2 linked regions of the Homo sapiens genome follow. The protein of the gene in region 1 purifies or fractionates together with the protein of each later gene. This does not show direct contact. Each region holds a gene or a part of one and is shown in the gene's direction. Other genes may lie near its edges.

What was found. The genes of interacting proteins can lie anywhere in the genome.
Region 2: the proteins of TNNI3K (region 1) and ASB3 purify together in Homo sapiens (affinity purification with mass spectrometry, with the first as the bait; 2 studies listed by BioGRID). This does not show direct contact.

What each region holds. Positions count from the first base shown.
Region 1 is NC_000001.11:74,230,652-74,238,398, forward strand, and holds the start of TNNI3K (serine/threonine-protein kinase TNNI3K), read left to right. Parts: upstream 1-4,735; 5' UTR 4,736-4,800; coding exon 4,801-4,840; intron 4,841-5,450; coding exon 5,451-5,559; intron 5,560-7,747. Other genes in the region: FPGT-TNNI3K fusion protein, read left to right, coding at 5,451-5,559. UniProt on the Homo sapiens protein: May play a role in cardiac physiology.
Region 2 is NC_000002.12:53,776,928-53,783,953, reverse strand, and holds part of ASB3 (ankyrin repeat and SOCS box protein 3), read left to right. Parts: intron 1-7,026. UniProt on the Homo sapiens protein: Probable substrate-recognition component of a SCF-like ECS (Elongin-Cullin-SOCS-box protein) E3 ubiquitin-protein ligase complex which mediates the ubiquitination and subsequent proteasomal degradation of target proteins. Recognizes TNFRSF1B.

The sequences.
Region 1 (7,747 bases):
ATCAACTTTATTTCATGTTTACCCACCAACAAAGGAAATCACAGGAAAAACTATGATCTTTGCATTTGCTGTTATACTTTATTGGACACAGAAATAGCAATATTGTTTATTCCTTTTTAAAATATACTCTGACAGTTAAAGATACTGAGAACACATACTTAAATTACTGTGACATTATATTATCATATTATAAATATATATTCATTATAATGTATTCTCAAGTCTTACTCATTTTTGAGGATTAATCTGAATATTACCTCAACATGTTCAGACTGATGATGGTGATTTATACATCATCCAACATACTAAAAACTTAGATATTCTAGTGAAAAAGAAAGAAAATTGTTTGATAAATAAGACTCTTACAAATTATGCTTGTTTAAATGCAGAAACACATTATTTAAAAGAAAATTAATCAAATAATTGTGTGCACTTGAATAGTTGTATGCATCTTAGGCAATGGTCAATTTATTTTTAAAATAATTTTATTTCAACACAAATTATTTAATCTTTATTAAAAATAAAGGAAAAAAACCTAAATATAAACTAACTAGTAATTCCACCTTCTTATGTTTAAAGCAATGATTAATTTGTCAACCAGATGCAACGCATTGAAACTCTATGCTTCCCCAAAACATGGAAATATATTAATAAGGACTAATATACAATGAAGAAATTATCAAAGTATAAATTAATTCAACTTCTAAATGTGATAATAATTGTTCCAAGTGCATTAGTTTGATTTCATGGGATACATTTTCTTTTATCATTTCTCTGTTGGAACCATAAAGGTAGAAGTGTCAAGGTCAATTTTTACGTTTTTCATTTTGAAAGCATCCTTTTAAATCTTTATAAAGAAATCAGTATAAAATAAATATAAATAGCAGATGCGTAAGTGTAGATTGGGATAAATAAATCGTATAAACCCCAAATAAAATAATGCAGAAAGAACATAAGTGGGTTTATTGAAGGAGTATTAGAATATAACTATTTGTATGCAGAAGTGGTCTGAGAAATCAGTTGAAAAGACAGAGGCATTAAAACTAGATTTAGGCAATTCAGTAGAATATCAAACTTAGTTGAAACAAAGTAGTTGAAGAAATAATATTTCATAAATGTGTTCTGACATTTTCTAATGAAGAAACGAGCAAGCATAAAAGAAAGAAACCTTACTATTAATCATGTATTTGAGTTGGCTTTTCTTTATAAATTATTAAATTTCCTTGAGTACTTCAAATGCTCTTTTTAAGGAATTATTATTTTTTGCATCATTTGTTTTATATTTTTCCATAATTTTTTAAATTAATATTTTGTTAGAATTGTTTTCAGTTTACAAAAAACATGGATCAGAAAGTACAGAGTTACTATATACTCCCCCTACACACACACAATTTTTCTTATTAACATCTTATATAGTATATTTGTTAACATGAATGAACCAATATTGATAAATGATTTTTAACTAAAGTCCATAGTTTACGTTAGTGTTGTGTAGTTCTATGATTTTTGCCAAATGGATAATGTCATGTATCCACCATTAGAGTATCATACAGAATATTTCTCTACTCTAAAGATTTCCTGTGCTTCACCTACTCATCTCTTCCTCTCCTCTACCCCTGTAACCACTGATCTTTTTATGGTTTGTATAGTTTTGCCTTTTCCAAAATGTCATATAGTTGAAATCACACAGGATGTAGCCTTATCAGACTGGCTTATTTCACTTAGTGATATACATTTAAAGTTCTTCCATGAATTTTCATGGCTCCTTTCTTTTCATTGCTGAATAATCTTCCATATTCTGGATATACCACAGTTTGTCTCTCCATTCACTTATGAAGGAATATCTTGGTTGGTTCAATTTTTGTGAATCACTTTTAAAATACGAGACTATACTTGCATAGCCAAATCATGTATTGCCCCAGGAATTACCACAGGATAGAACTCTTTGATAATCTGAAGTAATCTTTCTTTTGTTTTTATTCTACTTATCTCTTTTCTCTTGCATGAAATTCAAAGGTAAAAAAATTTCTGTTAAGTAGCATCTCACTTTAAGCAACCTTAAAATAGTGCTTCTTAAATGATGCTCCAAGTAGCATCTACATTAGAATCATCAGAGTTGCTTGTTAAAGTTCAGATTCCTGGGCTCTACTCTTGATGTACTGAATCAGAATTTCTGGGGATGGAGCCCAGGTTTCTATTTTTTTAAACAAAGCTCCTCATGTTGCCTACCCTCACTAAACTTTGAAAGCAGACTACTTTTGTAATCAAGTTGTGTTTTTGATAATGTATGATATAACATGCTTTCTCCACTTTTGGACGTCTCAGGACTGGGGAAAGTAGGATTCAACTTAGAGTATGTGGCCAACTCTTTATTAGAAAGAAGTACTTTTTACAGAAATGTACTGAGTATTAGGGAAAATATTTTTTGATTCTATGTTGTTTCTTTCCAACATTCTTTGGAAAAGGAATGCAAGGATATTATCCTGGACCATTTACATTTCCAGCATTTCTTCATCAGGCTGAAGGTACCCAGAAAAAATTACTCTAGTACCTCAAACCATTACCTAGATCCACATTCTTAAGAAGGGCTTAGAGATAAATATTGTTTCTTTCAAACCAGGAAACTGTTATAGTTCAATAGTGGTTAATATTTTGGGTAATATTTTGAGTAATTTTCTGCATTTCTTATATTGCTATCGTTTCATTTTATTTCCAGCAAAATGTATTGCATTAGAATGTGGGAGAATTCAACTGAGTTGCTGATTGGATTTTCAAACTCATCGCAGAAATCACACCTTTGAAAGCCAAAGCTTTCATTTGTAAAACCTAGGCTTTTTAAGAGAATAAAAGTATTCTTGAAAATCAAAAGGAAAAATTCTAAAAAGCAGTACATCAGACTTGTGTCCCAAGCAGGAAATTAGAAACACAGTGGAAGATGATGTAAGAGCTAATTTTTCCTCCATATGTGGAAAACATACATGTACACACACACACACGGATGGAAGATCCGAGATATTAGAAATAAGAAAAGAGATCAAGAAAAATATATTTAGTTGTCCTCTAGAAGGCTCCCATCTTTGTCCTTCTGGATTCAGAGTATAGAAACCATGATTATTTTAAGAAACTCTGAGAGGAGAAAGAGCTGGTGCATTATTTCCTAAAGTGTAGCCCTGGGAGATTGCAAGTCTTTTAAAGAAAGCTATCCAGTATGGTCTTCAAGATAAGGAAGAAGAGATTAAGCAGGAAGGTCCCTGGACAAAACAAAGACTTTCCAAACTGAGAAAATGGGGGTCACAGAAGTGCTTAGAGAAAGCTGGTGGAACTGAAGATGTCTGGTTTTCAAACAAGGAGAATGTAGAGTGTATGGACCAAGGTAACCAGATGCCACTGCAGTATAGCAAGTATCAACAGCTGTGGTAGGCATGTACTGATAAGAAGGGAAAAGGAGAATATGTCCAGATGAGGACAAAAAGTGTCTATGAAGCCAGACACCTGATGCGCCAACTATATCTCATCAGTCTGGAAGCCTTACCTCTGAAACTTCTATTACTTTTGCTGAGCAAAAATATATGGTGAGTCCTAACTTTGTCTAATCATTTATTCAAAAAGAGAGTTGTTTGAACATTTAACTATAGAAAATATGAAATCTGTATCTGTTAAGTTAAAGCTATATCCTCTGGATGTGAATCTGAAGATTAAAATTTATACTTTCTAGGTATAAGAAGATTATCTGAAATAAATATATAGTGAAAAATTTAATGTTTTCTTTCTGGGTTTCCCATTTATTCTCCATCATAGACTGGGTTCTTTATATCAGTAGAAATAGGCATACAATATGCATACAAAGAGAAATGTCCTAATAAAGTAAATGGAAGGTGCATGAAAGAGAAATTCTGGAAGACAAATCAATAATATCTAGCTTGGATATTAGAGTCACATGGTCAGAACTGATTCCAGACTTCCAACTTACTAGTAACTTTGTGTTTTCTCATCCATAATTTGTGAATAATATCTACCTAGCAGCACTGTATGTATGAGATTAAATAATGAGATATATGTAAAGCATGTAAACTAGGGTCTGACACATAGCAAATGCTCAATTTTCTTATTCTTAATCTTACTGTTCTTGTCATTTATTATTTTACGAATTGCTATTTGTAGAACTTAATGTTTTACATTCTGATCTATGATTCTTATGGTCGGAATAATCCACAATAGTATAAATCTTGGTCTATGTTGAGAATTTCTTCATACAAACATAATTATGTAGCTCTTATACAGGCCAAACCTGCATTCATTTCTATTAGTTATATGCTAGAGGTAATGAATTTTTATTATTTATTTATGTATGTAGACACATTCTATTACCACTCTTTACCAACTGCCATTATTTTGGCTTAGGAGAAAATGATCTTGAAAACAGGTCTATGTAGTTTTAACAGCTCTTTTGTGAACTTCGGATGTAACTGAATCATTTTCTAGATTTATCTGTTAAATAAATGGTCCATGAAAGTATGTATGGGTAGATAATTGATGGAAGCAAATAATCCTATTGAAACATTTGCTATTTATTTTTGATACAGTTCTTTTAAACAGACTGATTAGTTCCCTTTATGATTTCACCCTCGAAAGCACACACGATTTTGTTCTTTATCATTGTTGCATGACATTCCATTTGGCAGTTGGGCTTATTTTTAGCCAGACTATCAAAGTATTTTTCAACTGGACTGTCACTGCACTTGAACTTGGAATCTTATAACTTGAAGAACTGCCCTGGAGAAAGGAAGAAACTTATAATAAATGGGAAATTATAAATCTAGACCAACCCAAACTTGTACTGGTAATTATTCTAATTATTCTTATTTCCTTAAGTGTAATATGGTTCAATTATAGTTACTGATAACTAACAACTCATTGGAATATGTGTTAATTTGTATACGGAAGATAAGGCAGCATGTTTTGTGAAAGTCTTTGAAAAACTATCTGAACTCAAATTATTTTTTTCTGAAGATCTTTATAGGAAACAAGAAATTTCTTACAAAAATATTATTTTAGTTCCTTGGTATAATGTTACAGAAAAAAATTTGGAATATTGCTGAATGTAGGGATTTTAGAATTATATCTTAAGTATCTAGTATTTAAAAACTAAAAACCGTCTTGCAACTAGAGATTGCTATAATTAAAATGCAATAAAATCAAATGAAATAAGTCAAATATATTTTTCTATGTAAATATATTATCCAATATCGAATGGGTTCTTCATTACTACAATTCAATATGATTGCATTTTAAATATAAACATCTGCATTTTAAACACACAATCAGTAATTTAAATTAAGTATTGTAGAATCTAGAATAAAAAACAGTTTTGATTACTTGTATGTTATGATCTGTGTCTACATTTTGCAAAACACAACTATGAATCAATCTCATTTGTTCTTCTTTACTAGATGAATGGAAGAAAAAAGTCAGTGAATCATATGTTATCACAATAGAAAGATTAGAAGATGACCTGCAGATCAAGGAAAAAGAACTGACAGAACTAAGGAATATATTTGGGTAAAGTTGTAAGAGTCATTATTTCTTTGTATAAGTGTCTTCAGTATTCACCTTATTTTTTAAAGTATCTGTATATTTTTTAAACCCGTAGAACCTCAGACATAAGCAGTCATGTTCTAAGCCTTAGGATGTCAGATTATCTCTCTTTGACCACTCATATAGCTCTCAAAATGCAAACATAACATCTCACCTCCTTAAAATATAAATTGTAATCTGCCATCATTAAAGTTTAAAAATAAAAACCTAAAGGCTAGCCTTTGAATGCAAGCTATTGTTGATCTCAGTAATCTTCTCAGGAATTAGATCATTCTTGTAAACCATGCCGGCAATGAAAAGCAAGATTTTTCTTCCCACATAGTGGTCGCATATTGGCCACATTGTTCTCTTTGAACTATGACGGTAAGTCCAATTTTAACAAACCCTCTGGTCTCTTGACATTGAAAGGCTGTCCCTTAATGGAACTGAGTATCATTCTGCCCCTGAACAATCATATAACAACATATAATATTGCCTTCAGGATTTCAGTAGATTTTGTTCCATGATAACAAGAGAAAAATAATCTAAGTGTCACAACCTTGGAAGACACAAAATGTTCAGAAAAGAGGAGCAAGACCCTTATATACACAAAAAGCCTTCTGGTTAAATTGAATCTGACATTGAGAAACTAGATGCCCATTAGAGGGTCAAGAAAGTTACCTGCCTGACTAAGGAAAAGTTCCATATAGGCCAATTAGCCATGTTCATTTATAGCTGTGTTATGTAATGCACTCATGGCAAAGAACTCCCTCTATTTTACTTAGAAAACAAGTGTAAAGCAATGACCAAATGACACATCTTTAAAATAAAATTTTAGATATAGTAAACATATAAATATCACATAATTGGCAAATAAAATCACCCATGTATAATATAGTTTATATGAAATTCGTCAATGGATGTAACAAGGCTTTCACAAGTGTTCAACTTATGGTTCAAAAAGTAGTTGGTTCTCTTTATAGTTTGGCCCAGGATGATGAACTCAACACTGACACTTGTGATGAGATACCACTGATCTGACTTTTGCAAGTAGTATCACATGTTGAGATATGGAACTACATTTGAAATTCCTGTAGAAATATGACTGGCATGTTAGTACAGTAGAATTATAAATATGTATTTGTTTTGTTGGAAAAGTATGAATATAGAAATTAATCATAAACATCTAGCTCTTATTGACTTAAATAAATATGCTAAATGAAATATGATTACATTGAAGAGATTTTCCTCAACTTTTAAAGGTCAAAGCCTCAGTTATTTAGTATTATTTTTTAATTTAGAAAGTATTGAGCACATAGGTGAAGGCTAGCTTAAACTAGATGTATCCAAACCTGAATATTAGGATTAACAATGGATTTAAAATGTAGGTTCTTTCTGATACCACATCGACAACTACAAGCTGTTTTGACAACTGCTATAATGGACTTTTCCTGTGTTTCTACTAAATGCAACAAATGTGACCTTCTTTTTTCTGATTAGCATTGGGGGTGAGATGCAGGAATCTGTGTCAGGGAGCTTACAGTCCAGAATTTGTTGAGTGCCAGCTCGTATTCAAGTGTTGTTCTGGATACATCAAATACAAGACATTATTTAATCTATAGTCATATGTAGATTGTTGTCATTTCATGTGTGCCGAATAATATTAACTCCGGTGGATGATAAACTAAGGATTAGAGACAAGGCAGTGGGAGTTGTCAAGTCACATGGTCAGTAAATTCTGGAATGTGATTTGTGTCAAGGTCTGCCTGACTCCATAGATAGCGCTCTTCCTACCATACCCTGCTTACAAAAACAAGATTTAGGTCCTGATTTATTCATTGATTTTTGGAATCATTGTAGATAAAAAGCATAGTTAAGTAAAGGTGTGTAGGCAAGAATGAATGAGTACCATAGAAAGTTTAGGAAAAGTGAGAAAAAATAATGTCTTCACCATATTATCTGACTTGAGTAAGAAAGCTATGTGAATCAATGTAAGAATTTTGGAGTCATACAAACATGGTTTTAAATACAGCTTCTTCTATTTATAAGCTGTATATCCATGGATATGTTTTTTAATCTCCTTAATCCTCATTTTCATCTATAAAATGAGGTGAATAATAATCACCTCACAGGATATTTTCAAAATGAGGTAAATTAAATACTAAGTACAGGG
Region 2 (7,026 bases), on another chromosome or scaffold:
TTTACTGAGATTTTTTTGTATCATGCCTGGGTTAGGTCTACTGCTTTATGTATTCCATGTCCTCATTTGTCATAGATTTTTTTCCCACCTTGTAGGGGTATAACTAATTTCAAGCAATTTTTTTCAGGAAGGATTAAACAGGTAATTTAATTTCCACAGACTTCATATGTCTGAAAATGCCTTTACCTTGCCTGCTCATTTAATGATAGCTTGGGAATAGACTTAGTCCACAATCATTTTGTTTTCTTCAAAACTCTGAAGACATTCTCTTGCTTTTTGTGTCTAGTGTATCTGATGACAAGTCTAATGCCAGTCTCTTTCTTTTGCAGGTATCATACTTTTTTCTCTGGAAGATTTTATTAGACTGTTTTCTTTATCATTGGTTCTGTGATATTTTATCAGTGTTTCTAGGTGGTGAATCTTTTTTCATTCATCCTTCTTGGCACTCTATGAATCCTATTTTTCACTTCTGGGAAATTTTCTTCAATTATTTCTTTAATTATGTTCTTGACATTTTCTCTGTTCTATTCAGAATTTAGATAGGTTCTTCCAAATACATTTAGATAGATTCTTCCAAATACAGAGGAAAAATATAAAAAGAAAAAATACATAATACGAAGGATCAATCCAAGAGGTCCATTTCCTTGATTTTCAGTTCTTTTCACTTTCTTTTTTCAGTGGTTTTTTCCCCACAGTTTCTAGTCATCTAGTTATTTTTAATGGATGCATTGTTCTCATGACATGAATTTCTTTGAGGATAACACTTATAACTTTTAAATATTTATGTCCCATTCCCGGAAATAGCTCTGCTTCTTTCAGGTCAGTTGTTTATTTTCATCCTTTCTGTCTGTTGTGCTTTTACTTCAAAAAAAAAAATTCTTGGCGGGGCATAGTGGCTCACACCGGTAATTCCAGCACTTTGAGAGATCACCTGAGGTCTGGAAGGTCAAGACCAGCCTGGCCAACATGGTGAAACCCTGTCTCTCCGAAAATAAAAAAATTAGCCGGAAGTCTTGGCAGGCTTCTGTAATCCCAGCTACTCAAGAGGCTGGGGCAGGAGAATCACTTAAACCTGGGAGGCGGAGGTTGCAGTGAGCCGAGATTGCGCCATTGCACTCCAGCCTGGATGACAAAAGTGAAACTTCATCTAAAAAAAAAAAAATTATTGAGCTCTTTTGTAAGTGAGCAGGGTACTAGCTGTTGGGTCTAACTTTAGGGTCCTTGAGTGAAGTGCAAGAAACGAGTTGCCTCTTTCCTCCTCTCCTTCCACCCTGTACCCAAATAAGGAATGCTTTGTTATGGAACATGAAGATGCTCAAAGGCTTCCAGGGTAGACTGTTAAATTAAAAAGAGCAATAACAACAAAATAGATGTGGTTTTAGCCAGAAACAAATACTGTTGCTGCCAGGCGTTTTGTGTGTAAAGGGCTGTGGTAAAAAGTTTGGCTTGCTGTTTCATATAAATATTATAATAATTCTGATTTTAGTCCTACGTCCTTCCTCTGCTTGTTTCTAAGATTGGTACCTCTCCAGGCTCTGCTGGCAAGAATGTCTTCTACATTGCTATAGCCTTCTCATGTATGCATGTGTGTGTGTTCTGGACTGCAGTTTTCTCTGCACTGGCTTAATCCTCAGCATAATCCTACCTGCTTTCTCTTCCAGAATGAATGAGTGCATTTCAGTGCGATTTTGTTAGGAAGCGGAGGAAAATGTATGTGCTTAGTTTGCCTTGCATAGAGTGAGTAATCCATTGTTTTTTTGTTTGTTTGTTTGTTTTTGAGACAGGGTCTCGCTTTGTCACCCGGGCTAGAGTGCAGTTGCATGATCACTGCTCACTGCCATCCCAACCTCTGGGGCTCAAGCGATCCTCCCATCACCTCAGCCTCCTGAGTAGCTGGGACTACAGGTGTGCACCAGCCTGCCTAGCTAATTTTTTTATTTTTTGAATTCTTGGTTTCCCAGAGTGTTGGGATTACAGATGTGAGCCATGGCACCCAGCCAGTACTTGTTGAATAAATCAATGCTGTTGAAAAAATTGGGCAAGGCATACTGTTGTTTAAAAAGAAAATTATGGCTGTAGGAGATAAGTAATTAGGTGAATCTTTTAAATCCTGTTTTAAAAAGTCCTATTTTATTTTGTCCTAATTAAAAAAGAATCTCCGCCGGGCGTGGTGGCTCACGCCTGTAATCCCAGCACTTTGGGAGGCTGAGGCAGGCGGATCACCTGAGGTTGGGAATTCAAGACCAGCCTGACCAACCTGGAGAAACCCTGTCTCTCCTGAAAATAGAAAATTAGACAGGCGTGGTGGCTCATGCCTGTAATCTCAGCTACTCTGGAGGCTGAAGCAGGAGAATCACTTGAACCTGGGAGGCAGACATTGTGGTGAGCCAAGATGGCGCCATTGTACTCCAGACTGGGCAACAAGAGTGAAACTCTGTCTCAAAAGAAAAAAAAAATGGAAAGAATCTCAAAGGGGTTAAGCCCTACCAATGGAGGTACAAAATGAGATAACTACCATCTCTCACTTTTTTTTTTTTTTTTGGAGACAGAGTCTCACTTTGTTGCCTAGACTAGAGTGCAATGGCATGGTTTTGGCTCATTGTAGCCTCAACCTCCTGGGCTAAAGTGATCCTCCCACCTCAGCCTTCTCAGTAGCTGGAACTACAGGTGTGCACCACCACGCCTGGCTAATTTTTTTTGTATTTTTTGTAAGAGATAGGGTTTTGCCATGTTGCCCAGGCTGGTCTTGAACTCCTGGGCTCAAGTGATTTGCCCCCTCAAGCCTCCCAAAGTGCTGGGATTACAGGTGTGAGCCACTTGCCCGGCTTCCTTTTTTGTTCTTTTTAAAATTGTAGGCCTTAATTTCATTTTGTTCCTGTTCAGTGCTTAGCACAGTTCCTGGCATGTTGTAAATGTTCAATAAATGATACTACATTTGTTTTACTTAAGCAATTTTCATCATCGTAGAAAATAAGGATTAAATGAGTTAATATACATAAAGCACTTGGAATAGAATCTAGCATATAGTTAGTGCTACATAAGTGTTAACCATTATTCTCTGACACATGAACACCTTTTTGTTTTTTCTATGAAGCTTTCTCTGATTCTGCTACTTTGAATTGGTAATTTGCCTTTCTGTATTCTGGTTGTATTTTATTTATTTGTTATTAGTTTTAGAGACAGAGTATTGCTGTGTTGTTCAGGCTGAAGTGTAGGGGCCTTATGATAGCTCACTGCAGCCTTGAACTTCTGGGCTCAAGAGATCCTTCTGCTTTATCCTCCAGAGTGGCTAGGACTGCAGACATGTGCCACTATGCCCAGCTAATTTTTACATTTTTGTAGAGACATGGTCTCACTATATTGCCCAGGCTGGTCTCAAACTACTGACTTCAAGTGATCCCCTTGCTTTGGCCTCCCAAATTGCTGAGATTACAGGCACGAGCACCATACCCACCCCTCTGCTTGTATTTTATATCACATCTTTTATATTAAATAACATAGATTTGTTTGCTTGTGTGTTTCTCCACCAAATATGATTCTTGATAGCCGGGGACTATCTTATTTATTTTGGTGGTCTCAGTGCATAGTCATTGCTTGCCACATAACATTAGTTCGCTCATTTGAGCTAGGTCTTAAAGAATGAGGAGGGTGGTGTGATTGGAGCATGAGGGGCAGGGGAGTACGTCAGTGGGAAGTGAAATTTGACAAATACACTGATACCAGATTGACCAGATGGTAAGTAGTTGAATGCCAGATTAAAGGATTTGAATTTATTTTATATGCAGCAGGAAGACATTTTGATTACTGACCTCAGTTTCATATTTTAGGTAAGTAATTCTGAGTGCACAGTAGAGCGTGTATTGGAAAGAGGAAAAGAGATTGGAAACAAGAAGAATATGTAAGAAACTCTGGCTCTTGATGTATGATAAGGCTCTTTAGTTGAGAATCTTTCAGCATGTAACCTTTTACTATCATGTAATCTTTTAAGCCTTATCACAAAAAGCCTTCAGGGCTTCCTTGGTAACTTCATTTTGACTTTGTTAAAAGAAAAACTTTAGACGAAATCAATTTATCAGAATTTGTTTTTGTGTTAAAGGATTAATGAATTTGGCAGCACCCAAAATTAGAAGTAGTTCAGGGAGCTCTTGTTTTAACAGAGTAAGCGGCAGACCTTTGCAGGCTGAATGTGGAAGCGAAGTAAAGAAATTACTTGATTGGACTGGGCATAGTGGCTCATACCTGTAATCCCATCATTTTGGGAGGCTGAGGTAGGTGGATCACTTGAGCTCAGGAGTTCAAGACCAGCCTGGGCAACATGGTGAAACTCCATCTCTACAAAAAATGCAAAAATTAGCCAGGCATGGTGGCACATGCCAGTAGTCCCAGCTACTTGGGAGGCTGAGGTGGGAGGATTGCTTGAGCCTGGGAGGTTGAGGCTGCAGTGAGTTGTGATTGTGCCACTGCACTCCAGCCTGGGCAACAGAGCGAGACCCTGTCTTGAAAAAAAAAAAATTACTTGATTGTCATAGCTACTTGTTTGTCTTATTTGGGTACAATCTGGCAGAAAGTTGCTTGTTAGAGAATAGTTGTTGGTTTCTGATTAAAATTAAGTTGTGACATCCTATGGATTGGGAGGAAATATTTGCAAGCCATACATGAGATAAGGGATTAAAATTCAGAATATAAAAGGAACTCAAATAACTCTATAGAAAGAATACAAATAATCCAGTTAAAAAATGGGCAAGGAACCTGTATAGACATTTCTCAAAAGAAGACATACAAATGGCCAACAGATACATGAAAAAATGTTCAACATTACTAATCATCAGGGAAATGCAAATTAAAACCACTATGAGATATCACCCCAATATGTGTCAGAATGGCTACTATCAAACAGATGAAAGATAAGTGTTGGCAAGGCATGTGGAGAAAGGGGAACCTCTGTACACTGTTAATGGCAATGTAAATTAGTACAACCGTTATGGAAAACAGTGGCAGTTCCTCAAAAAACTAAAAATAGAATTACCATATGATCCAGCAATCCAACTTCTGGGTATTTACCTAAAAGATTGGAAATCAGTATGTTGAAGAGATATCTGCACTCCCATGTTCATTGCAGCATTAATCACAATAGCCAAGATACGGAATCAACCTAAGGGTCCTTAGACAGATGAATGGATAAAGAAAAATCTGGTGTACATACGTAGTGGAATACTATTCAGCCTTAAAAATGAAAGAAACTTTGTCATTTGTGACGACATGGATGGATTGGAGAACATTAAGCTAAATGAGATAAGCCAAGTACAAGCAGACAAACAACATATGTGCTTACTTATATATTTAATCTAAAACCGTTGAACTAAAAGAAGCAGAGAGTAGAACAGTGGTTACCAGGGTTGGAGGGAAGGCATGGGGGAATGGGGAGATGATAGTCAAAGGGGAGGAATTTTTTTCTTTGAGATATGTTGCACAGTATGGTGAATATAGTGACTAATAATGTACTTTATACTTGCTAAGAGTAACTTTTAAAAGTTTTCACTACAAAAAAAATTTGAGGTCATGGATATGTTAACTAGATTTAATTATTCCACATTGTATTCATAAATCATCACTTTGTACCTCATAAATATATAACTATAGTCAGTTTATAATTAAAAAATAAAAAGCAAAGATTAAGTTTTGTTTCACTGTTTACATTGGGCTTCAGTTTGCTTACATAGGAACCCAGAGTCCTAGGACCATCTTAGCCAAATGGCCTCCAATTAAAGATTGCTTACACTCTTTTTTTTTTTTTTTTTTTTTTTGAGACAAGAATCCTGCTCTGTTGCGCAGGCTGGAGTGCAGTGGCGCCATCTTGGCTCACTGCAACCTCTGCCTCCTGGGTTCAAGCAATTCTCCTGGCTTAGCCTCCCAAGTAGCTGGGACTACAGGTGCCCGCCACCACACCTGGCTAATTTTTTTGTATTTTTGGTAGAGACGGGGTTTCACCATATTGGTCAGGCAGGTCTCGAACTCCTGACTTCAGGCGATCCACCCGCCTTGGTCTCCCAAAGTGCTGGGATTACAGGCGTTAGCTACCACACCTGGCCAAGATTGCTTACACTTTTTAAAAAATGTTATATTGTTTTTAGTAAAACAAAGGGTAAAATTTAATAAAAAGGCACAAACACATTTTGTGTATATTGTGAAAATACCATCTATTTCCTCCAAAAGCTTATAAATTGATATGAGTATCATAAACCTGTTTATTTTTCTCCTGGACTAAGTATTGTTCAACGTTTAATGTGTATTATGTACAGGGAGGTAATGTGGGACCAGATTTTCTGGTTGGGAAAGGAGATGAGTACTGGTTTTAGTACAATAAGTTTCCATGCTTGTGTAGCACAACTGGAGATGCCTTCATGTAACAGACATATGAAGAGGTTGAGAGAGTAGGCTGGAGATTGGAAGCTATCCAAGTAAAATTGAAGCCTAGGATTTGATGAGTTTGTGTATTTGATAAAGAATAGTGTAAGAGTTGTAACTGGAAACACAATGAAATGTTTTTGTCTTTGGCTTTAGTGACATGGGATGCTTGATCACTAGTGTCTGATGCACCAGAGAAGCATGAAAATTGCAATCTTTGGGTTCAGTGAGGAAGTGGTCATTGGAGACTTGATACTATAATGATTGGGTGGTATGGCAGAGTAAAGTTGAATTGGAAAGGGATTAAGACGAGTTGATAAGGAAGTGAAGCACTGTGTAGTTAAAAAATTTCTGTGAAGAATAAGAAAGCTGGAAGAACACAAGAAACTGTAGGATTAGTGGTGGTTTTTCCAGTTACAGTGTGTGTACATGTGTGGGCGAACCATTTATAAAGAGAAGGAGGCTCAGTACAATTAAGTAAAACAACCAAGAAAATGAAACTGAAATATAGTATTTTAGAAAGGTAAAATGAACCATAGGAATGAAAAGTCCCTGAAATCCAATAAAGCTAATTTTCATCATATAAATTTGACATACAGAAGAAAAATTTTGGTATTTTAA